Linked DNA regions of Homo sapiens. The protein of the gene in region 1 purifies or fractionates together with the protein of each later gene. This does not show direct contact. Each region holds a gene or a part of one and is shown on either strand. Other genes may lie near its edges. The genes, in order: ARHGEF6, ABLIM1, SLAIN2, ARHGAP44, ARHGEF9, NT5DC3 and RBM38.

The links.
Region 2: the proteins of ARHGEF6 (region 1) and ABLIM1 purify together in Homo sapiens (affinity purification with mass spectrometry, with the first as the bait; one large-scale study listed by BioGRID). This does not show direct contact.
Region 3: the proteins of ARHGEF6 (region 1) and SLAIN2 purify together in Homo sapiens (affinity purification with mass spectrometry; one large-scale study listed by BioGRID and IntAct). This does not show direct contact.
Region 4: the proteins of ARHGEF6 (region 1) and ARHGAP44 purify together in Homo sapiens (affinity purification with mass spectrometry; one large-scale study listed by BioGRID and IntAct). This does not show direct contact.
Region 5: the proteins of ARHGEF6 (region 1) and ARHGEF9 purify together in Homo sapiens (affinity purification with mass spectrometry; one large-scale study listed by BioGRID and IntAct). This does not show direct contact.
Region 6: the proteins of ARHGEF6 (region 1) and NT5DC3 purify together in Homo sapiens (affinity purification with mass spectrometry; one large-scale study listed by BioGRID and IntAct). This does not show direct contact.
Region 7: the proteins of ARHGEF6 (region 1) and RBM38 purify together in Homo sapiens (affinity purification with mass spectrometry; one large-scale study listed by BioGRID and IntAct). This does not show direct contact.

The regions. Positions count from the first base shown.
Region 1 is NC_000023.11:136,770,933-136,774,432, forward strand, and holds part of ARHGEF6 (rho guanine nucleotide exchange factor 6), read right to left. Parts: intron 1-3,500. UniProt on the Homo sapiens protein: Acts as a RAC1 guanine nucleotide exchange factor (GEF).
Region 2 is NC_000010.11:114,441,776-114,445,275, forward strand, and holds part of ABLIM1 (actin-binding LIM protein 1), read right to left. Parts: intron 2,360-3,500; coding exon 2,254-2,359; intron 12-2,253; coding exon 1-11. UniProt on the Homo sapiens protein: May act as scaffold protein. May play a role in the development of the retina. Has been suggested to play a role in axon guidance.
Region 3 is NC_000004.12:48,414,529-48,418,028, forward strand, and holds part of SLAIN2 (SLAIN motif-containing protein 2), read left to right. Parts: intron 1-3,500.
Region 4 is NC_000017.11:12,792,498-12,795,997, reverse strand, and holds part of ARHGAP44 (rho GTPase-activating protein 44), read right to left. Parts: intron 1-3,500. UniProt on the Homo sapiens protein: GTPase-activating protein (GAP) that stimulates the GTPase activity of Rho-type GTPases. Thereby, controls Rho-type GTPases cycling between their active GTP-bound and inactive GDP-bound states. Acts as a GAP at least for CDC42 and RAC1.
Region 5 is NC_000023.11:63,635,215-63,638,714, forward strand, and holds part of ARHGEF9 (rho guanine nucleotide exchange factor 9), read right to left. Parts: intron 2,996-3,500; coding exon 2,814-2,995; 3' UTR 1-2,813. UniProt on the Homo sapiens protein: Acts as a guanine nucleotide exchange factor (GEF) for CDC42. Promotes formation of GPHN clusters.
Region 6 is NC_000012.12:103,782,235-103,785,734, forward strand, and holds part of NT5DC3 (5'-nucleotidase domain-containing protein 3), read right to left. Parts: coding exon of another isoform or gene 3,442-3,500; exon of another isoform or gene 3,374-3,441; intron 3,242-3,373; coding exon 3,101-3,241; intron 1-3,100.
Region 7 is NC_000020.11:57,401,396-57,404,895, forward strand, and holds part of RBM38 (RNA-binding protein 38), read left to right. Parts: intron 1-3,500. UniProt on the Homo sapiens protein: RNA-binding protein that specifically bind the 3'-UTR of CDKN1A transcripts, leading to maintain the stability of CDKN1A transcripts, thereby acting as a mediator of the p53/TP53 family to regulate CDKN1A.

The DNA.
Region 1 (3,500 bases):
ACTGCAGTGAGCTGTAATCACACCACTGCACTCCAGCCTGGGCAACAGAGTAAGACCTTGTCTCAAAAAAATAATTATATTTCTATACACTTGCAGTGAACAATTTAAATACCAAATCAAGAAAACAATCCTATTTTTTTATAACACCAAAAATAATAAAATCCTTTGGAATAAATTGAACCAAGCAGGTATAAGACATGTACACTGAAAAGTACATAATATTGCTGAATGAAACTAAAGACAAATAAGTGGAAATACATCCCATAAGACAAATAAGTGGAAATACATCCCATGTTCATGGATTCAAACATTTAATATTATTAAGATGGCAACACTCTCCAAAGCAATCTATAGATTGAACACAATCACTATCAAAATCTCAGCTGGCCTTTTTTGTAGAAATTGACAAGCTGATCCTAAAATTCATATGGACATGCGAGGGATCCAGAATGGCCAAAGTGATTTTGAAAATGAAGAACAAAGTTGAAGGACCCGCTTTTAAAACTTACTACGTAGCTACATTAATCAGTTCAATGGAGGAATTGGCTAATGTTGTCTTTTCAACAAATGTTACTGAAACAACTGGATGTGCATATGCAAAAGAATGAATTTGGACCCGTACCTCCTACCATATACAAAAATTAACTCAAAATAGATCAAAGACCTTAATGTAAGAAGTAAAACTATATTATTCTTAGGAGAAAACAGGAAAAAAATTCTTCAAGACATTTGATTATGAGTTTCTTAGATATGACACCAAAAGCACAAGCAACAAAAGAGATGAATTTGACTTCATCAAAATTAAAAACTTTTGGACAGGCAATAACAAATGCTGGAGAGGATGTGGAGAAAAGGGAACCCTCATACACTGCTGGTGGGAACGTAAATTAATACAACCATTATGGACAGTTTGGAGGTGCCTCGAAAAACTGAAAATTGAGCTACCATATGATCCAGCAATCCCACTGCTGGGTATGTTACCCAAAAGAAAGGAAATCAGTATATGGAAGAGATAACGGCGCTCCTATGTTTGTTGCAGTACTGTTCACAAATAGCTAAGATTTGGAAGCAACCTAACTGTCCACCAACAAATGAATGGATAAAGAAAATGTGGTATGTATACACAATGGAGTACTATTCAGCCATAAAGAAGAATGAGAATCAGTCATTTGCAACAACATGGATGGAACTAGAGATCATTATGTTAAGTGAAATAAGCCAGGTACAGAAAGACAAACATCACATGTCCTCACTTATTTGTGGGATCTAAAAATAAAAACAATTGAACTAATGGGCATAGAGAGTAGAAGACAGGTTACCAGAGGCTGAGAAGTATATTGGGGAAGGAGGCAGGAATGGTTAATGGGTACAAAAAAAATTGAAAGAATGAATAAGGCCCATTTGATAGCACAACAGGGTGACTATAGTCAATAATAATTGTACTTATTAAAATAACTTAAAGAGTGTAATTGAATTGTTTGTAACACAAAGGATAAATGCTTGAGGGTATGGATACCCCACTCTCCATGATGGGATTATTACACATTGCATGCCTGTATCACAACATTTCATGTACCCCACAAATATATACACCTGCTATGTACCCACAAAAATTGAAAGTAAAAAACAAAAATGTCTAATTAATAAATTTTTGTGGGCCAGGCACAGTGGCTTACGCCTGTAATCCCAGCCTTTTGGGAGGCTGAGGCAGGTGGATCACTTGAGGCCAGGAGAGGCTGGACAATATGGCAAAACCCCGTCTCTACTTAAAAATACAAAAATTAGCCAGGCATAGTGGCAGGCACCTGTAATCCCAGCTACTTGGGAGGCTGAGGCATGAGAATCACTTGAACCCAAGAGGCCAAAGTTGCCGTGAGCCAAGATTGTGCCACTGCACTCCAGCCTGGGAGACAGAGCAAGACTCCGTCTCAAACAAACAGACAACAACAACAAAAAAAATTGTGTTACAAAGGACACTATCAAGAAGGTGGTGGGGTGCTTCCGAGAGCACTTTGTTCCCAGATGTCTCAGCAGACTTTCCTGATCAGTTACTAAATGTGTGATCCTCTAAAGACCCTAAGACATTGTAGCCATATGAGAACACACAGATGGGGGTTACTTGGAGAAGCCGACTGGCCACCCAGAGGACCAGAAGGCAACAGCTTTTTTAATGTCGTCACCATGCCCCAGAGCCCAGTACTCAATTTGTCGGTACGGTGCTGCATCTGCGGCTCCATTTTTCTGCATTTCCAAGCTGACAATTTCAAGCCGGTATGCTTTCTTTAGATAAATAATATTGTGTTCTAAGCAACAGTCAAGCCCTGCTCTTCTTGCTTTTTGTACATCTACAGTTTTATAGGGTCAACAAAAATCTATTAGGTATGTCCTATGCCAGGCACTGTGCCAGGCACTTTGGGCCCGAGAGAGACTCTATCCAGGGACATTTGCAAATATTTATGTTTAAGTCTGTCTTCCAGCTACCTGGAAGCTTCAGACAAGATGATGAGTCTTCTTGGCTGCTTCGTGCTCCCCAGCTCAGCTTTCGGTCTCATTCCTTATGTATTGATTTTATTAGTCTTCTTTCTGGGTTCTAGGAGTGCCTCAATATGGCTCCTATATATACCTTACAAGAATAATTTTGCACACAACAATGCAGAGAACATTACCGAGTAATAACACCACAGAAAACAGCTATTGTGTATGCCTTATGTGCAGTGCTATATTAAGTGCCTTGGATGTATTATCTCATTTGATCCTTAAAACAATCATATACAGCAGATACTATTAATGTCTCCATTATACAGATGAGGAAAAAGGAGCATAGAGAGGTCAAGTAACTGTCCCAGAGTTATGCAGCCAGTAATTGACCAAGCCAAGATTCTAATCTAGGTCTGCCAAACTAGAGAAGGCATGTGCTTAACCACGATGTCAGATATTGCCTCATTACAATATTCATATAATGCCCAGGTCAGCATGAATTACCAAAAAGAGATAAAAGTGTTTCCAGTGCCTTTTATTTAAGAAGAGAGAAAATTAAGACATACATTTTAGAAATATTTCTATCTTGTGCTCACTTCAGCAGCCCATATACTAAAATTGGAACGATACAGAGAATATTCATATGGCCCCTGTACGAGAATAACACAAAAATTTGTGAAGTGTCCCATAAAAAAATAAAAGTAATAAACATAATTTTTTTAAACAATAAATATTTCTATCCAAAGTGGAAGAATATTTTAAGCATTGGTGCTTAAAGGAGTAAGCATTAGTTATCAGAAAAATCCTGAACAATGCCTAACCTGGAAGGTGTTTCTGTATCATCCAGTATTCTTAGAACTGCAAAGAAGCTAAGTAAACCTTCTGGCAGCTTTAGAATGCAGAAATCATTGGCAACTTCACCATGTTTTTATTTGAAAAAAAAAAATACCATAGTATTGGCCAGGCGTGGTGGCTCATGCCTGTAATCCCAGCATTTTGGGATGCCAAGGTGGGCAGATCAC
Region 2 (3,500 bases), on another chromosome or scaffold:
AATATGTGAAGCTGAGTAAGAAAAAAGTAAAAAACCAATTGTTAGGAAATCAGAAGGTCCAATCCTTTAATGAAATTGGCAGTATCTTCTACCTCACAGGATAGAAATACCAAAAAAATTCAAATCATATTGGGCTCAAATGTTCAAAAATATGCCATCATATTTGCAAGGAGTGGGTGGACAGTGATATGACTGAGGAGGGAAGGGAAAGTCAAGTCCACGCGGTTGAGTGGGGGCTGAAGCTGGCTGTGCTTCCTATAGCTCTGGCATGGAGCTAAGTGTTCAGCATGCTTTATTTCTTTGAATCTTCAATATAACCCTAATAACACTATGATTATTAGTTCCATATTACAGAAGGAGAAATAGGGGCTAAGAAAAATATCCTGCCAACAGTTACTAAGCTTCTAAACAGCTGAGCAAGGATGTAAATCAGGGATATCTGAATACATTAGCCCATGCCCCAGTTGATAAGGCAGCAGTAACTGAACTGGAAGCCAACCCTGTATGTTATCAAGATCTACCAGCCATCTACAGCTGGCCTCCTGGGAGGCCTGATACAGGGTATCTGTCAATGATATGGAAGCCTGATAAGCTGCTGGGCTTGAGAGGGAGCAGCCCTGGGCTTGAATTCTGGTTCTGCAACTTAATACCTCTGTATCTCCGGACATGGTGTTTAATCTTTCTGAAGTCCTCATTTCTTCATCTATGCAGGTACAATGTTATACATTCTTATAGAGCAGAATCTCAGAATTCCAAGGAACTCTAAAGATTTGTAAACCACCGAATCCAAGATCAATGCCAGTGAGGCATCTATGAAGGGTAGCGGGAATTCCAGGTAAGGGTGTGGGCTCCGGGGTTATAATATGTGGACTTCTAAATCCTAGTCTTGCTAGTTATTGGCGTATCACGCTGGGTATGTTAACTCAATTTCTATACCAGCCTCCTGATTTCTAAAATAGAGATGAAAATGCTGCAGTTGCTAATAACAACCACATCTACTTCACTGGCATGTTGTGAACATTAAATAAAATGTTTAGCAAAAATGCTTGCATGGAGTGAACATTAAATGCATTTTTTTTTTTTGAGACAGAGTCTCACTCTCACCCAGGCTGGAGTGCAGTGGCGCAATCTTGGCTCAATGTAAGCTCAGCTTTCTGGGTTCACGCCATTCTCCTGCCTCAGCCTCCCGAGTAGCCGGGACTGCAGGAGCCCGCCACCACACCTGGCTGATTTTTGTATTTTTTAGTAGAGACGGGGTTTCACTGTGTTAGCCAGGATGGTCTCGATCTCCTGACCTTGTGATCTGCCCGCCTTGGTCTCCCCACTAAATGCATTTTTAAAGGAACTCTTAGAGGAGAAAATTATGCTCTAGCTCAGAATATGAGAGAAGAAATCTTGTGGTTTAAGAGAGAATTGGCTTATGACAAATAGATACAGGGGAAAATACACTGATAGGCTATTTCAGCCCAGTGTATAAGTCATCTTCTTCAAAAGTATCAAAAACACTGTTCATCCTCAGTTCTTGTATTGAAGATTTTTTTTCTTTTTTTTTTTGAGATGGAGTTTCACTCTTGTCGCCCAGGCTGGAGTGCAATGGTGTGATCTCAGCTCACTGCAACCTCCACCTCCCAGGTTCAAGTGATTCTCCTGCCTCAGCCTCCCGAGTAGCTGGGATTACAGGAGCCCACCACCACGCCTGGCTAATGTCTGTATTTTTAGTATAGATGGGGTTTCGCCACGTTGACCAGGCTGGTCTCAAACTCCTGACCTCAGGTGATCCGCCTGCCTTGGCCTCCCAAAGTGCTGGGATTACAGGCATGAGCCACCGCACCCGGCCTCTATTGAAGATATTAATGTAAAATCATAATGCTTAGAAAATGTCTTATTCATGTTATCTAAAAAAAAAAAAAAAAAAAAAGAAGAAGAAGAAAAGCATCATGTTTTTTAGAGGATTTCCTTTTGCTGCTTCCCTTGGAGATGAGTGTTCTAGAAGACAAACCTAGTATATGGGGATTGGCCTTCATGGATTTTGAGAACCTCCAAGGGTTCACCCATTTCCAGAAGAAAGGAAACACACATTTATGGAAGACCCATGACATGCTTATGAGCTCATTTGACATGGAGTGGGTTTCCCACACTTCCTTTCCCGTGGAATACTCTGTAGGTTCCACCACAAGTGAACAGTCAAGGCAGGTGCCTTACAAGCAGGTGGCTGGCTCTCGAATCAGGGAAGGTTGGGGGTTTGCTGCTTACCTGAGTTGATGGGAGAATCGTAGCGACTGGCTAACAGAGATGACCTTTCCCGGCTCTCTTTCTCCATCTCTTCTTTCAAGATCAACTGTCCCAGGCCTGAGTTAAGCTATTCACAGAAAAAAGGAAAAAAAAAAAAAAAAGAAAGCAAAGCTTGCAATTACTTTCATGGAGCTGCAGTTTCTTTGTAGCAGATCCCACAAGAAGTTTCTCTTGCTGGAGGGCCTGAATGCATGTGGCCCCAGAGCCTGGTAGTTCCTGAAGAGGTAGGTCAAGTTTGGGACCCTAAACCCTCTTAGCCCTTTCAGTTTCAAAGCTCCATTTCCCTAAGTCAGGCTCTGTGTTAGAAGAACGTTTTCCTTCCTCTGCTTTCCCTAAAGAGCCAGGAGACCTCAGAAGGCATGTGTGAGTGTGTGTGGATTTTTGATGTGGGAAGGGAAGACTGGGGCTGGTATCCTTTAAAAAGAAATTGCCTTGATTTGTTTAAAAACAAGAAATAAAGGTAATACATGCTAATTTTACAGATTTTGGAAAATCTAGAAGAAAAGAAGAGTAACCCATAATATGTCACTCAGAAATAACACTATCTTTTGATTTATATCTATCTAGTATTTTTGTATACACACATATAAAACTGAGATCATACTATAAATGCAACTTTGTATCCTTTGACTAATATCACGTGCATTTCCTATATGCTTAGAAAACATCATTTGAAAGGATTCAGCAGCCTCTTGACTGATAACAGACTGTCCTTCTGGGCTGCTGCAGGCCCTTGCTACAGGAAGGAGGGTATGAAGAGGACCCCTTCATGGTGGCCATTCCTTTCATTCCTTTTCTCCTGGCCCACATCCTGGGAAAAGACTTGGAGAAATGTTCAATCCCACAGTCATTCCTTCAGCAGAACTGCATGAGGGAAGGAAGGTGTGGCACTACCTGGGTGGATACCACCTTGCTCTGCCTGGCCCTCCAGCAGCCTTTCAACACATGCACTGCACACATGCCCCCATGTGGTCTCTCTTTCCTTCCCACAACAACCCAAACCTTCCACACCCCTCTGACCTCCAGCACCAATGCCATCTCCTCTAGAGCCCAGCAGGTATTCTGCCATATTCTAGTTACTATTAACAGACACCTGTCTTGCCTTGCCTGCCAGATTTCAAGCCCCTTGAAGACTGGGACCACCTCTTGCCTATCTAGATGGTTTATACATAGTAGTCATTCAAAAAATATAGATCTTATGTAACTAG
Region 3 (3,500 bases), on another chromosome or scaffold:
AAGCAATGCAATTGGTGTGGTATTTTTTTTTTTTTTTTTTTTATTATACTCTAAGTTTTAGGGTACATGTGCACATTGTGCAGGTTAGTTACATATGTATACATGTGCCATGCTGGTGCGCTGCACCCACTAATGTGTCATCTAGCATTAGGTATATCTCCCAATGCTATCCCTCCCCCCTCCCCCGACCCCACCACAGTCCCCAGAGTGTGATATTCCCCTTCCTGTGTCCATGTGATCTCATTGTTCAATTCCCACCTATGAGTGAGAATATGCGGTGTTTGGTTTTTTGTTCTTGCGATAGTTTACTGAGAATGATGGTTTCCAATTTCATCCATGTCCCTACAAAGGATATGAACTCATCATTTTTTATGGCTGCATAGTATTCCATGGTGTATATGTGCCACATTTTCTTAATCCAGTCTATCATTGTTGGACATTTGGGTTGGTTCCAAGTCTTTGCTATTGTGAATAGTGCCGCAATAAACATACGTGTGCATGTGTCTTTATAGCAGCATGATTTATAGTCCTTTGGGTATATACCCAGTAATGGGATGGCTGGGTCAAATGGTATTTCTAGTTCTAGATCCCTGAGGAATCGCCACACTGACTTCCACAATGGTTGAACTAGTTTACAGTCCCACCAACAGTGTAAAAGTGTTCCTATTTCTCCACATCCTCTCCAGCACCTGTTGTTTCCTGACTTTTTAATGATAGCCATTCTAACTGGTGTGAGATGATATCTCATAGTGGTTTTGATTTGCATTTCTCTGATGGCCAGTGATGATGAGCATTTCTTCATGTGTTTTTTGGCTGCATAAATGTCTTCTTTTGAGAAGTGTCTGTTCATATCCTTCACCCACTTTTTGATGGGGTTGTTTGTTTTTTTCTTGTAAATTTGTTTGAGTTCATTGTAGATTCTGGATATTAGCCCTTTGTCAGATGAGTAGGTTGCGAAAATTTTCTCCCATGTTGTAGGTTGCCTGTTCACTCTGATGGTAGTTTCTTTTGCTGTGCAGAAGCTCTTTAGTTTCATTAGATCCCATTTGTCAATTTTGGCTTTTGTTGCCATTGCTTTTGGTGTTTTGGACATGAAGTCCTTGCCCACGCCTGTGTCCTGAATGGTAATGCCTAGGTTTTCTTCTAGGGTTTTTATGGTTTTAGGTCTAACGTTTAAATCTTTAATCCATCTTGAATTGATTTTTGTATAAGGTGTAAGGAAGGGATCCAGTTTCAGCTTTCTACATATGGCTAGCCAGTTTTCCCAGCACCATTTATTAAATAGGGAATCCTTTCCCCATTGCTTGTTTTTCTCAGGTTTGTCAAAGATCAGATAGTTGTAGATATGCGGCATTATTTCTGAGGGCTCTGTTCTGTTCCATTGATCTATATCTCTGTTTTGGTACCAGTAGCATGCTGTTTTGGTTACTGTAGCCTTGTAGTATAGTTTGAAGTCAGGTAGTGTGATGCCTCCAGCTTTGTTCTTTTGGCTTAGGATTGACTTGGCGATGCGGGCTCTTTTTTGGTTCCATATGAACTTTAAGGTAGTTTTTTCCAATTCTGTGAAGAAAGTCATTGGTAGCTTGATGGGGATGGCATTGAATCTGTAAATTACCTTGGGCAGTATGGCCATTTTCACGATATTGATTCTTCCTACCCATGAGCATGGAATGTTCTTCCATTTGTTTGTGTCCTCTTTTATTTCCTTGAGCAGTGGTTTGTAGTTCTCCTTGAAGAGGTCCTTCACATCCCTTGTAAGTTGGATTCCTAGGTATTTTATTCTCTTTGAAGCAATTGTGAATGGGAGTTCACCCATGATTTGGCTCTCTGTTTGTCTGTTGTTGGTGTATAAGAATGCTTGTGATTTTTGTACATTGATTTTGTATCCTGAGACTTTGCTGAAGTTGCTTATCAGCTTAAGGAGATTTTGGGCTGAGACGATGGGGTTTTCTAGATAAACAATCATGTCGTCTGCAAACAGGGACAATTTGACTTCCTCTTTTCCTAATTGAATACCCTTTATTTCCTTCTCCTGCCTGATTGCCCTGGCCAGAACTTCCAACACTATGTTGAATAGGAGCGGTGAGAGAGGGCATCCCTGTCTTGTGCCAGTTTTCAAACTATCTCTCAGACCACAGTGCAATCAAACTAGAACTCAGGATTAAAAATCTCACTCAAAGCCGCTCAACTACATGGAAACTGAACAACCTGCTCCTGAATGACTACTGGGTACATAACGAAATGAAGGCAGAAATAAAGATGTTCTTTGAAACCAACGAGAACAAAGACACCACATACCAGAATCTCTGGGACGCATTCAAAGCAGTGTGTAGAGGGAAATTTATAGCACTAAATGCCTACAAGAGAAAGCAGGAAAGATCCAAAATTGACACCCTAACATCACAATTAAAAGAACTAGAAAAGCAAGAGCAAACACATTCAAAAGCTAGCAGAAGGCAAGAAATAACTAAAATCAGAGCAGAACTGAAGGAAATAGAGACACAAAAAACCCTTCAAAAAATCAATGAATCCAGGAGCTGGTTTTTTGAAAGGATCAACAAAATTGATAGACCGCTAGCAAGACTAATAAAAAAAGAGAGAAGAATCAAATAGACACAATAAAAAATGATAAAGGGGATATCACCACCGATCCCACAGAAATACAAACTACCATCAGAGAATACTACAAACACCTCTACGCAAATAAACTAGAAAATCTAGAAGAAATGGATAAATTCCTCGACACATACACTCTCCCAAGACTAAACCAGGAAGAAGTTGAATCTCTGAATAGACCAATAACAGGCTCTGAAATTGTGGCAATAATCAATAGTTTACCAACCAAAAAGAGTCCAGGACCAGATGGATTCACAGCCGAATTCTACCAGAGGTACAAGGAGGAACTGGTACCATTCCTTCTGAAACTATTCCAATCAATAGAAAAAGAGGGAATCCTCCCTAACTGATTTTATGAGGCCAGCATCATTCTGATACCAAAGCCGGGCAGAGACACAACCAAAAAAGAGAATTTTAGACCAATATCCTTGATGAACATTGATGCAAAAATCCTCAATAAAATACTGGCAAACCGAATCCAGCAGCACATCAAAAAGCTTACCCACCATGATCAAGTGGGCTTCATCCCTGGGATGCAAGGCTGGTTCAATATACGCAAATCAATAAATGTAATCCAGCATATAAACAGAGCCAAAGACAAAAACCACATGATTATCTCAATAGATGCAGAAAAAGCCTTTGACAAAATTCAACAACCCTTCATGCTAAAAACTCTCAATAAATTAGGTATTGATGGGATGTATTTCAAAATAATAAGAGCTATCTATGGTGTGGTATTTTTAATCTTGATTTCTAATGTTCGTTGCTGGCATATAGAAACATAGTCAGTGTTTGTATTTTTATCCAGTTCTGTGACCTTACTGAATTCACTTATTATTTCTAGAAGTGTGTGTGTGTGTAGATTCATTGGGATTTTCTGTGTA
Region 4 (3,500 bases), on another chromosome or scaffold:
ACCAAAATGAAGGTTAAAAAAAGTAAATTGAATTCTGTGGGAAAATAAACATTTATTCTAAAAATAAGCTCTAAAGTTGGAAAATGAAAGCAAAACATCTGCTTCCTGGACAGAAAGAAGAGTTTGAAATTGCTAGACAGCCACAAGCTTCCCAAAGGCGGTGGAGTTCCAGGTGCCAGCTCAATTGGATGCCCCACGCCCGAGGGAAGAGGCCTGACTCTCTGACTCTCCCCCCAACCTCCTGCCTGACCTACAACTACATCCACACAGATGTAGCATAATTTTATTATTTGCTGTCTTTATCAAATAGCATTTGAAATAAACTGCTTTTGATTATTAATAAAAGGGATACTTACTAATCCCCTCTAAAAGGAATGACCATAAATTACCAGTATATTTGTATGGCTACTGATCCACTTTCTCTAGAGAAAAAAAAAATGGTCCTTATTGCCCATCATTAAAAAAAAAAAATCATTGATAAATTACTTTGATGGAGACAAACTGGGAAGGAAAATGATTAATTGCTATTTAAGAGCATGGCTTCCTCACGATGACTTGCAGGTCTGGGATAACAGAATTCTGCAGGAAATCTAGACAGCTTCAGGCTGACTGCTGACAGCAGCTCAGCAGAAGGTGAAACCCAGCAGACCCACACAGTGAGGATCTTAGAAGATAAGAGCAAAGAATATTCTCTCCAGATTTGCTAACCCAGTAATCGGTGGGTTAGTACACTCTGTTATCTCTCACATATATACAGCAGAACAGGCAGTAAGGCCTGGGCTTCCATAAAACTCTAATGAAAAACTTTGCTCTGAGACCCATTCAATGTGCACAGCGCTCTTTGGGGGACGAGTTTGGGTCCGCCCAGCCCTGCTGGGCTAACAGGAAGCCCATGGCAGGGCCTGTGTTGGTCTGGCAGGTCTAACTCACAGTAAGGGAAATAGAAGGGAAGGAACAAAGCAGTCCAAAGCCAAATTTGGAATTGGTTCTGATTTTCCTCTAATGTCCTATTGATTGGGTCACGGCTCTTAGAAGGCCTACTACAAGGCAGGGCAATGTCTCAGAGATACCTTCAAGGAAAAGATCCTCACTGACTTTGGCAGCTTTGGCCCAGACAAAAATGTCTGCAGCACCAGTGCTCCTAGAGGCTGCTGCAGCCTCAGCCTCCAGTTCCCAGGCTCCCCACCACTGGCTAATGCCTAGGCCTCTGCAGCTGAATTCCAAGAGCTGCACAGCAGCAATGATACCTGCAAAGCTGTGCACCAGAAACCAAGCCTGCTTTGCAATGTATGCAAAGCAGTCAAGGAATAGAAAACAAGGCTCCAGAGACAAAACTTTGTCTTCACTCCCCAACTCATAGCCTCTAAATCCACACAATTCAACCCGACCCAACCAGCCTTCTCCTTCCCGCACACCCACAGTTCCTCACCTACTCCCAGACACTTTGAACATCACTCATTTTAAACAAGAGGACAAGCCCCACTTGGACCATCACTGGGCAGTAGCTGTTGAAATCGTTTCTAAGAATCCTTTTCTACTTAGGAGGCCAACATTATTTTTGGAAGACTTGAATGGGTGTTCAGTGACAACGAACCACCTCAACCATTTGTTGAGGACTTCAGTGGACCAGGCTCCCTCCAACCTCATGACAGCCCTCTGAGGATGGGGCCGCTGTGAACCCACTGTGCAGACTGGAAAAAAAAGTCCTCCCCACCAAATCAAGGTACCATTACTTCTTCCATTTGCTTTATCTTAGTGGGTCTCGTGGGTGCCAAATTTTAGCTCAGGGCTTTGCTCCACCCAACATCAAGCAAATGTCACTTCCAAGAAAAATACTCTATGCCTTTCGGTATGCTTCTCACTCCAGCAACTGCTAGACTCTCTTGAAGGTAAAAAGAAAAATGCTGCCATCAATCAGGCAAGAACCAAATTCTCCCGTAAATCTTGCTCTGCCCTTCCAATGCCCAGAAGTGCAGCTGTTCCTCTCTCCTCTGACCACCATCACAACGTTAAAGAAACATGGTATCAGGAGCTTTCCCCATCTTTGAACTACTTCAAAAGACTCCCCTATCTATAGCGCATGGATCTTTTGTTCACTTACTCATTCCATTGCCAAAGAATGACAGAGGACCTTCTATACAGGGCAGCGTTAGGGCAGCTGTCCCTGCCTCCAAAGAGTTTAAAGTCTAGTGGGGAAAGTAAATGACAAAAGATAAAAATTATAACACAAGTGAGCCATTATTACCATAGCATGCTTTTAGAATGCAGGTTCCTTTTTTTTTTTTTGTGTGAGATGGAGTCTCACTCTGTCGCCCAGGCTGGAGTACAGTGGTGCAAGCTTGGCTCACTGCAACCTCCACCTCCCGGGTTCAAGCGATTCTCCCGCCTCAGACTCCCCAGTAGCTGGGATTACAGGCGCCCGCCACCATGCCCAGCTAATTTTTGTATTTTTAGTAGAGACGGGGTTTCGCCATGTTGGCCAGGCTGGTCTCGAACTCCTGACCTCAGGTGATCCACCCTCCTTGGCCTCCCAAAGTGCTGGGACTACAGGCGTGAGCCACCACGCCCGGCCTAGAATGCAGGTTCCAGGCAAACAGGAATTTTGTTTGCCCTGTACTGCAATACTCCCTGAACCAGAGCAGTGTCTGGGACACAGTAGACATCTAATAAAGGTACATATGCCATAGTGCATATAATTCAATAACAGTCATAACATTTGCCCAGAGATACTTGTAGCTACCATTTATTAAGCATTTCCTAGTGCTGAGCACTGCTAGGTACTTTTCACAGGTTATCTATGTTATCACTGTGGTTACCACATTACCACAGTGCAATCCTTAACTACTCCCATTTTGCAAGTAAGAAAATTAATGTGCAGAGAATTAAGCTCTGGATTCCATAGTCAGCAACAAACTAAACCTGTCCCAGTGGAAAGCCTGTGCTCCTAACCATGAGGCACACAGTGGCCAGGGAGTGCTTCCCAAAGGACGGATTGAAGTGAAGGGACAGAAAGGGGAAAGTTCAAAGCAGAAGGAACACGTGCAGACTAAGGAAACAGACCAAGGAGGGGCTGAAACTTTTGTCAGTTAAATACAATGGGTTTTATCAAATCTTTTCATAGTCGCTGACGCCCTTAATATGACTTGGATGTGAGCACTTCGAGAGAAAGTACTAGTAACCCAGCAGAGTATGTTTAAGTAGGGCAACTCCTACATTGTTAAAATGACTTTAAGTTTTATATTCAGAACTCCAGAACCTGCAACTTAGGGAAGGCGAGCCATGAGGAAGGACTTTCAAGTCCTCTTAGTCCTCCCTCGGAAAGAGGAAAACTTTAGAAAAATATAAGGATAAAAATCAAGTGCTTTATAACTGCACACCTAAAGTCCAAATTCCAATCCTATGTGCTTCTACTGATTTAAGAAATTAACAGGCAACCGCGGGCTCTTTTACTCCAATACTCATAGGATCATGACCCAAAACATTCTCAATAATAGAGGAGA
Region 5 (3,500 bases), about 73 Mb from region 1:
TCACACTAGAATTGTTAGAACTCTCTTGTTGCTGTTCTTATAGATCCATTAGAAATATACACATAGAGAGGGGGGGAAAAAGAGAGAATAATTAGATGTCTGTCTTAGGACTCCCCACAGCAGGTCCCATTGAACACACTAGCAAAGCCTTTTGGAGAGCAAATCCTGGCCTCACTGAGTTGAGGAAAAGGGAGCTCAGGGCCATGCGGAAATTACAACATTACAGAATTACTGGGGTTACCATTGCTGTCAGGACATAACAGGTTAGGATACTGAACCCAGGTATTTAATTGGGCTCCCCTTGGGGCTGTTGGCCACTGGTCTGCTTTGATGCTATAGGCTGAGGGAATACTCCAACCAATGGGGAAATGATTTCTTGTTGTTCACAAATTAGTGGCATCAGGTGATGCCAGTGGGTTCAGTAGAGGAGAAGTGCGGGTTGAGAAGTAATATCCCTGATCCTGGAGCCCTGGGCAGAAGCCCCAAGGAGGGAGGAAATGAGAGGGCCTAGTCAAGAAATGTAGGCCCAGAAACTTGTCCAAGCATCCCCTCCCGGTGTGCTGCCAACCCTCGAAGAAGCATGTCAAGGCCAAGCCTAGTAAGGAGGAGTGAGAAGTTGGAAAAAGAGGTACACTGAAGGGAGGCCTGCATAGCTACCAAAACACTCTGCCAGACAGGATATTTTAGCCTGGGTGCTGGGCACCAGGACCCTTGCCAAAGAGGCTTACGTAGTTAGGTCATGTGCTGAACAGTGGTGGCCAGTCCCGAGCCCCGGCCCTCTCCCCAGATCAGGCTCATCCTTGACTTATAATACAAGTCTGACTTGGTTGTGATGGAATATAAACTTAAATAGCTTGTAATTTGATTCCCACAAAGAAAAGATTCCCAGGCTGGGCAATGCCTGGTCTGGATCAGGAGGCATAGAGCAGTAAACATGCTAGCTATGCTGAAGCCTCCACACAGCTATGGCTGCTGCTTGGTAAGCTGAAGTCCTGTCATGATGAAGTCTTCTCCCATGGGGTTTAGGACAGACTCCCAGTCTCCACATTCCTCACTACAGTGGCTTGCTCTTCACAGCAGAGTTCATCCTTATTCCCTTATACCCTTTTTGTTGTTCAAGGTCTATCCATGAAAAGGGCTATGTGTGGAGGAAAAACAGGTACTCCAACATCCATAGGAAGCCTGCCTCCTTGTGAAAGAAGTTAGATTTTCCCAAGCAAAAAGCTGGCCAAAAGCGAGCCTGAGGGTAGCATCCCTGCCTCAGACACGTTATTCAGAGGGAAAATTGCCCCTGGGCCCCTAACTCACTTGCCCCAAATGTCCTGGGATGAGAGGATGTTGGAAACACGGCCTTCTTTGAGTGCCAGAACAGCTTTAACTATATCAATACCAAAAATCCTCCTGTGCTAGGATGGCAGGAGAAAGAAGAAAGAGAGAGGGAAAGAAAGAAGCCAGGGAAGATTGTCCATGCAATCTGTTAACAATGGGAGAAGTCTCACACAATTTTAGGGTGGTAGAAAATGCAGGTACAATACTGTGGATCAAGGCTATCTCTTTCCATTCCCATCCCTGTTCTTTCTTGTAAAAGGTTACTATCAGACTTGGACCCTGTCCAGGTCAATAATTTGAAGGTAGCTGATGATCTTGATCAGGTGGGCTCTGTCTTGAACCCCTCCATACTTCTATCAATGCTGCCCAAACATCTGTAAATGGGAGCAGGGACAACCAGGACACTGAACTGATTGCTGTAGAGATCACTGCCCTAAACCTATCTGGTACTAGGGGGCAGGTAAATCCCTCTCCTGGGAGGCAGAATCTCAACCTCTGCTTCCAGTTCAGATCTTTTGGGCTAAGGGAGAGACAGGCCTAGGGGGAGACCTATAACAAAAGTGACTTGAAAAAAGAGAATAACTCGATCAAACTAACTCCTAGATGCAAAATTGCAACGACCCAGAAGTGCTGCAACATGGGAAACCCCAGTGATAGAAGAAACAGCCTGAATGCAAAATGTTCCCTGAACAGAAGTCCACTCCAGCATCATCATAGTCTGATACTCCCTTGCTTCTGTTTGGTTTTTTGATCCCTTCACAGTACCTAAAACACAGTAAAAGCAATAGGAATACTGAGCAGTTTTGTCACAGGGCACAACAGAGCATGTCCAGACTGGCATGACTGAGGACAGAGGATGCTGAAAAAAGGTTATTTGGGGCAACTGCAGGGCTGAAGGAACATTTGATAATGATTGGCTGAAGGAGAGGAGAAAGGAGCTCATTCCCTTCCTCAATGGAAAGTAAAAGAGGGGAAAAAACCCTGAAACCTCCCAACTCTACCACATCAAATAAAATTAAAAATTCATCAACATCAGTATCATCAGAAAAAAAACAATACAAACACATCTATCGTAATAATGACAAGGCAGTGAATCACTCACAGGGGAGTAAAGAGATTATCTTAACAAGAAAAGCAATGAATAGAAATGTCAACTTCTGAAAGCAAAGGGAAGGGGGACAGGGTAAAAATGGAAAACTTTTAAGACGGAATCACATGTTTGGAAGTCATTGGTACCTCTTCCTACCAACCACATATTTCACTTCCCCAAAACAACAGAAAACACTTTTGTTCCTTATCTCTCTGTGTGTGTGTGTGTGTGTGTGTGTGTGTGTGTGTCTGTGTGTGTGTGTGTGTATGTGTACTCAAGGGTCTCTGTGTGTGTGTGTGTGTATAAATTTCAACAGTGCTTCTCCGAAAAAAGGTCCATCTATAAATATAATTTTATTTACTTTATTTTAAAATTATCTGCCTCCCTGTAGGTATCATTTTTTGAAGGGGGTTAACCTGCTGAAGTTTTGCCAGAATGGTGACTGGCTGCGCTTGGGTTCGGTGAACTCAAAGACCTGCGACTGAGCGATGCCGTCGGGGACCAGGTACTGGCCGTGGTTTAACGGGTCCTGCGGTGGTGGGTAGGAAGGAGGAACTGAGCGGGCAGAGTTGACACCTAGAGTAGATGAGAGATCAAAGGGAAAGGGTATAAGTTATGTAACAAAGGGCTTCTCAAATTACCCAGTGACCACTCTGGGCAGACAACTCAAGGCAGACTGGTTTAGAGAGTGTGAACTGGTTTTACAAATCATCCAAGGGGAGAATTCCTCTTTCAAACAGATTTTGGAATACCATGGCTACTATTGCAACCCTACACACTTCCACATCTAGTCAGGTATCAAAGAAATTTGGGGTATTGCTATAATCTGTTTTACAGGTGAGAACACTGATATCTGAAAAGAAATGTTATACCCAAGGTCACATGGTAAGTTAGCGACAAAGCAAGGGTTAGAACCTACATTCTTTGACTACTCAGTTCAGAGCTCTTTCCAAGACACCAGAATCCCTTATGCAGGGGTTGGTCCTGCAAAGAACCCAACAAACTCTATTTCGCCTTCTCCAGTCCCCCCTGGAAGTTTTAAAAGAGCCTGGTTAAGAACTATTGACTTCAGGACAGGTTT
Region 6 (3,500 bases), on another chromosome or scaffold:
GGTGCACACCTGTAATCCTAGCTACTCAGGAGGGTAGGCATGAGAATCACTTGAGCCTGGGAGGCAGAGGCTGCAGTGAGCTGAGATCATGCCACTGCACTCCAGCCTGGGCAACAGAGTGAGACTGCCTCAAAAGAAAAAAAAGAGAAGAATTTCCTAACATGTAAAAATTACATGAAAGTCAAATTTCAGTGTCCACCAATAAAGTTTATTGGGACACAGCTACAACCATTCATTCACATACTGTCCACGGCTGCTTTTGTGCTACAAGTGCAGAGGTGGGTAGCTGCAACAGAGCCTACAGCCTGCACAGCCTAAAATATTTACCATGTGGCCCTTTGCAGAAGCTTGCTGACCTGTGGTCTAAATGTGGCCTCTGACTGGTTGGTTACCTGAGAAGCGGCTACCAATGCCAGCACCACCACCATGAACCACAGCCATTTTGGAATGCACTTCAAGGCTAACTAATGAAATTACAACCAAAATTTATATACTTCTATTTCATTCATGAGACTCGGCTCCAAATGACACTCTGTGAGGTCAGGAGTTTGAGACCAGCCTGGCTAACATGGTGAAACCCCATCTCTACTAAAAATACAAAATTAGCTGGGCGTGGTGGCACAAGCCTGTAGTCCCAGCTACTTGGGAGGCTGAGAGAGGAGAACTGCTTGAACCTGGGAGGTGAAGGCTGCAGTGAGCCAAGATCGCGCCACTGCACTCCAGCCTGGGCGACAGAGCAAGACTCCATCTCAAAAACAAACAAACAAACAAACAAAAAAATGACACTCTACTGGCTCTGAAAAAATCAAACCCAATCTCAGAGGACCAATTTTTCTCCTCAGAAAACTGTCCAAATAATGTGCTACATGCTCTGAAAATAATCCCCAAGGGGGAGTTCTAGAAACATCTACCACAGGCTCAGTGGAATAACTTATAACTTTCTAAGGGAACACTGAGGAAGAGGGTGACAGTGAGATAGGACACTGATTTGGATGTTTTTTTAGTTAGCAGCTATACACCTCTATATCCTAGTGAATCCAACCTGACAGAACTCTGTACAAAGTGCCAGAACCCAAGGCAATCAATATAGGTGCACAGAGGTTAAGGGTCTAGAGTCGGTCGGCCTGTGTGTAAACACCAGCATCACCCCTCACTAGAGCAAGTTATATCTCCTCTGCGCCTCAGGGTCTTCATCAGTAAAATGGCAGTGATGTTTCAGAACTACTTCAAAGAGTTTCTGTGAAGATGAAATGAACTTAAAGGTCTCAGTGTCCAGAACACGGTAAGTTCTTACGACATTTCTACATAGCCTGATTCTGCCAACCGAGAACTGTGATTCTAGAAAAGTCACCTATCTCGCTGTCTCAGTTTTCTCTCCTGCAAAATGGGGGCAGCTATGTAAACCTCAACTCCCTTTTCTTCCTTCCCTTACCCCACACCTCATATAATTAATTTTACAAACCACAGAAATATTTTCAGCACTTCCATTCTCTAAAACACACATTCCTTAGTAGTCAACTTTTTACACAGGTCAGAAAAAGGAAAACAAAATAAAACCAAAAAAAAAAAAAACCTCTTTCCAAAGCTAAAATATACTGATACCATCTACGTGCAGTTGTGTTTGTACCTATGACCAGCTGCCAGGGTCACAGAGATTTCACTGAGGGTGAGTCAAGCCTTGCCTATACCCGAATCCTCTAAACAGGAAGGCACATTAGAGCAGTGCTCTGAAGCATGGACTTGGGGACTTGGTTCAAGCCCTGCCCTGCCATTTTATGACCTCAGACATGAATGATACCTAACCTCTCAAAAACTGTTTCCTTATTCTAAAATGGGAAAATTGTACCTACCTGCAAGGGACAGCTGTGACTATTAAATGAGCAAAGTGTATAGAGCCAGCACTCAGCACAGTGTCCAGCACATAAAAAGTAACTATTAGTAGTGTATGACATGCACAGACTCTAAACTACACTAACTCAGAATTGACACTGTATATTTTTAGTAAATCATCTCACAGACAAGCATAGCGAGGGAAACAGAATAAATCCTCATCAGAGGATTCTCATCAGAGAAGAGCCAAGAACTAATGGAGCCCAGTGCATCCTGGAAACAAGGCCCAGGGGGACGTGCAGGGCCCCATGCTCTGGAATGCATGCACCTGGAGCCAGAATCTGGCCTGCCACTCATGGCCCTGCCTGATCTCACTGCTCAGCCACTCCCAAGCAGAGTGCCAGCTGGGGCAGGCAAGGCAATTCCCTGCCCATTTCCAAAGCCAGAGGGCAGGCATGGGCAATAGGCTGTGGCCACAGGTTGCAGGTGTGTTAGCCAAGAGAGCAAGCACCTGTGCCCAGATCCTAAAAATGTCAGCACCCATGCTGAGACGGCTGTAGCCCAGGCAAGCTGGAGCCAGGGAGAAAGCAAGGTGCCTCATGGAACTGGAAAGGAAAGGGGCACATGGAGAATTAAGGGGATACAGCTACAAAAGAGAGGCAGCTTCCATGGGCCAGGAAACGACTGATAAAACTGCCATTCCTCACTTACCAGCCAAAACTGGCTGCCTAACTTAACTTAAGGAAGTAACTGCCAGGGAACTCCAGTAAGCCAGCAAACTGCAGGTATTATCCTCAGAATCAACTGAGGCTGGACCCAGGGATCTTGACTCTTGCTTTGAGACTCTTTCCAGTAAGCCATGGTGCCTAGACTGAAGTTTTCGTTCCAGCGGCCCCTTTATTTCACAGATGGGGAAACTGAGGCCCAGAATGGAGAAGTCCCACCGTAGCAGGTGCAGACAGAACCAGCACAGACTCAAGCACTGGCAGGGCTTCCTGAATCCCAGCATCCCACAGGAGAGCTCCTAGCAGGCTTCAGTGTGGAAGTGAGGACACTGGATCTTCACTGACAGAGGAATGTGAGCAAACACCTGCATTAACAAAGGCCCCACAAACACTGTCTAGGCAAAAGAACCCCAATCGTTATTCTACAGTCTACTGAAAACAACTTAAGCCTCATATTTTATAACAATTAAGCAGAAAATACCTGAAGTAACTTTCTAACCTCAGGCTTAAAGAAAAAGTGAGAGAGAAAAATAATATATCCAAACCTGCATCTGTTCCAATAAGCCAGTCAAGGTCTGCAGCCAGGTCATGGTTTGAATGTATTGCTCCGTGTTCATGATTTTGAGCTCAGATCTCAACTCTGGGATGATTGCACCAGTCCTCCAGCCATGCTTTAGGGTCAAATCCTGATCACAAAGATCACGAAAAGTCAACGTCAGTCTCAACAGAATCTAAACTATGTCATTATTTTCCCAGACATGAGAGGCATTCATTTAATTACTTTTTGATGGTAATGGTTAGTTATTCACCAAGCTGAATTCAATGAATTACATTTAATTAAAACCTATTTGGCCCCAGCCTTTGATCATTTCATTCCAAGAAAGTTTCAGTTCTGGAAATAATTGCCGTGAGTCACAACCCCTGCAGAAACACTAGGTCTGGAAT
Region 7 (3,500 bases), on another chromosome or scaffold:
AGCCTGCCCAGCCCTGGCTGCTCAAGGCTGAACTGCTTTCTCTGCCTTCTTGGGGCAGGGACTCTTGGCCTGGGAAGCAGAGGCCATTCCACGGGGGGGCTCTTTTGCCTCCCAGCTACCTGCAAAGCCGGGGCCTGCCTCAGATGCTCAGCACTGGGCACCTGCTGTGCTGGGGCACTTGGGACGCAGCAGCTGAGACCCTGCTCTTGTGGGGAAGACATTGTGCAAGGTAGATGATGAAGGGGCTTCCGATCATAAGGAAACAGAGCCGCCTGGGTGGACCCCTGAGGGGTGAGCTTTGAGCTGTGGGAAGAAGCAAGTGCATAGGTGCGAAGGTCCTGTGGTGGGAAGGAGTCGAATCTGGGAACAGAAGGAGCCCAGGGCAGTGGGAGTGTGGCCAGGGAGGGCGCAGTGCAAGTGGAGATGAGTTAGAAGAGGTAGGTTGAGGCCTAATAACGCAGGAAGCCACAAGGGAGCAGTTTGGGTTTTCTTCTGGGTACAGTGGGAGGCAGCTGGAGGGTTCTGCTTCTGGAGGTGATGGGGTGTTGATGTTTTCGTTTGTTTGTTTTTTGAAACGGAGTCTCGCTCTGTCTCCAGGCTGGAGTGCAGTATCTTGATCTCAGCTCACTGCAGCCTCCGCCTCCCGGGTTCAAGCCATTCTCCTGCCTCGGCCTCCTGAGTAGCTGGGATTACAGGCACGCACCACCACGCCCAGCTATTTTTGTATTTTTAGTAGAGATGGGGTTTCACCGTGTTGGCCAGGATGGTCTCAATCTCCTGACCTCATGATCCGCCCGCCTCGGCCTCCCTAAGTGCTGGGATTCCAGGCGTGGGTCTTGATGTTTTTAAGACAGCTCCAACTGCTGCTGGGTGAAGGATTCAGGGATGGAGGCAGGTCTCCACCACCACCAAGGCAGGGCCACGCCACTGCGCCCGCCTGGAGAGTCGGTGATGAAGGAGAGGGAGGATCGGAGAATTGAGGGATGGAAGCAGGGAGCTCCCTGTTGGATGGTGTGGGCATAGGCTGCAGTGGGGGTGAGTGGGCAGGGCAGTGCCTGGGTGGCCTGGTGGGCTCTTCACTGAGGTGGAGAGTGCAGGAGAGTCCCACCAGGGCCAGGCAGACACGTGCCCTGGCAGGCGAGCCTGTGCAGGGGACACACTTGGTGGGTGGGGCGGCGTGCAGCTACCAGGCTGTGCCCTTGTGTGCAGAGGCTGTGGCACCTGAGCTTTCTGAGCATGGCGTGTGAGTGGGGATGCTGAGGAACCTGCCTGGTGCGTGCACCCGCTCCCCATTGCCAGGCAGTGAAGCCTTGGGCCTGCGGCCGGGGCGGGGCCGCCCTTGGACAGTGCAGGGCCGGTGGTTTGGCTGCATTTTTCTTTCTCACCTGACCACTCAGTGGGTTCGCCCATGCGTGCGTGGCTGCATGAGCCCCTCTGTCTCTCTTTGCTCCCACCTGCCTTCTTTGTGGCCGCCCGGCGTGGGCACCTGTGGTCAGAGCAGCAGTGAGGATCCCTTGTCTTTGCCCTTCCCCTTCCCCATGTGGTTTCTGATGGTCCACAGTCGGGCGTCTCAGCCTTGGCACTGCGGACCTTTAGGACGGCATCGTTCTTTGTTGTGGGGGCACCCTGAGCATTGTAGGAAGCGGTCAGCACCCCTGGCCTCGACCCCTAATGTCAGCAGCACCCCCACCCGCACCTCATATTCCTAGTTGTCAGTTGTGACAACTAGGACCGTCCCTAGGCATTTTCCAGTGTCCCCTGGGGGCACAGTTGTCCTGGTTGGGAATCGCTGTTCTAGTGGCACCTCTAGGCCTCACAGCAAGCTTTTGAGGTCAGCCTCTGTAGGACCCAACTTACAGATGAGGAAACTGCGCCTTGGAAGTTTTGAAACCTGTTTGGTAACTCAGACAAGTGCAGGGGCGAGGCGCAACCCTAGGAGGGAGAGAAGCTGCTGGAACCCAGCTCCTGCCTGGCGGGGCTTCGTGGCTGCTTCTACCTTAACTTCAGCCGGTGTTCTCACTCCCCCTTGGGGCTTGAGGTGTGGCCCGTGCTGTGCCTTCCTTTTATTTTGAGCTGAACCTGGGGCCCCAGCCAGTCCTTGCAGGCACAGCTACCAGCAGCAGGCCCCACTGTACCAGTCCCTTGCTCTGCGATGGGGCAAGTCGCTTGGGGCCTCTCTGAACCTCGGATTTCCTCTCTGGGAGATGGGCTAACACTAGCATCTTTTCTATGGCTTTTTTTTTTGAGACAGAGTTTTGCTCTTTCGCCCAGGCTGGAGTGCAGTGGCATGATCTCAGCTCACCACAACCTCCACCTTCTGGTTTCAAGCGATTCTCCTGCCTCAGCCTCCCGAGTAACTGGGATTACAGGCTCCCGCCACCACACCTGGCTAATTTTTGTATTTTTAGTAGAAATAGGGCTTCGCCATGTTGGCTAGGCTGGTCCTGAACTCTTGACCTCATGATCTGCCCGCCCCAGCCTTCCAAAGTGCTGGGATTACAGGCGTGAGCCACTGCGCCCAGCCTTCCGTGGCTTTGAAAATGCTTCGTAAGTTATCCCAGGCCCTTTACGTACAGAAAGATGAGTAGATACCGACATGCAGTGTCTGCAAGGGTCAGGAAACAGGAGAGCCCCGCCTTCCTCCCCAGCCTAAACATTGCTCACCCACGCTTGTGTTTGAGTGTCCCTGAGTAGGGCAGCTCCTTGGTGGCCAAGGCAGCGCTCTGGCCCCGATGATGTGGGGCATCAGAACCCGATAGAAATGACGCAGCCCTCGAGGTGAGTGTGGCCGGAACCCAGCTGCCCCACAGCCCCAGGCACTTGTGTTCTGTGTCCCTGGTCTGGGCAGCGGTTCTTGAATGCAGCTGTGGATCAGGACCCCGGGGCCTGTTCTTGCACATTCCTGGGCCCCATCTGCCTTTGCAGTCTGCATGGGATCCACATTTTTAGCAAAACCTTGCGGGGAGATGTCTGAGGCAGGGGCATCACTGCCCATGTTTGGAGAAGGTGTGTGGGTTCAAAGCTTCCATAGCCTCCTACTAAGGAATGTTTTCGAGGTTCTGAGAGCTGGGTCGGGGGGGCACTGATGATGCCAGGGACAGCCTGCTGGGCACAGCCCCAAGACAGTCCTTGCTGTGTCTCCACTCGCCCCCTTCCCAAGGGAGGCCTCCGAGACCCTTCTGGGGCCCCCTGCCTCCGCTGGCCAGAGCTCCTCATCCTTCTCAGTGGGGTCTGTGCCACCCACCGGGCCTTTGTTCCGTCAGCACCATGTGCCCAGTGCCTCCTACAGGCCTGGTCCTGGCAGAGAGCTGGGAGTCCAGACAGAGCCATCTCCCTGACAGAACGCCATCCAGTGGGGCATCGGGCAGCGTAGCGAGGTGAGGGGCTGGCCTCCATGTGGGGTTGGGCCTCGCCAGGTTAAGGGCTCCAGGCAGAGGCATTGGCAGGTGCCAGGCCCAGGTGGGGAGGATGCGAGGGATTGAGGCGCTGTGGGGCATGGG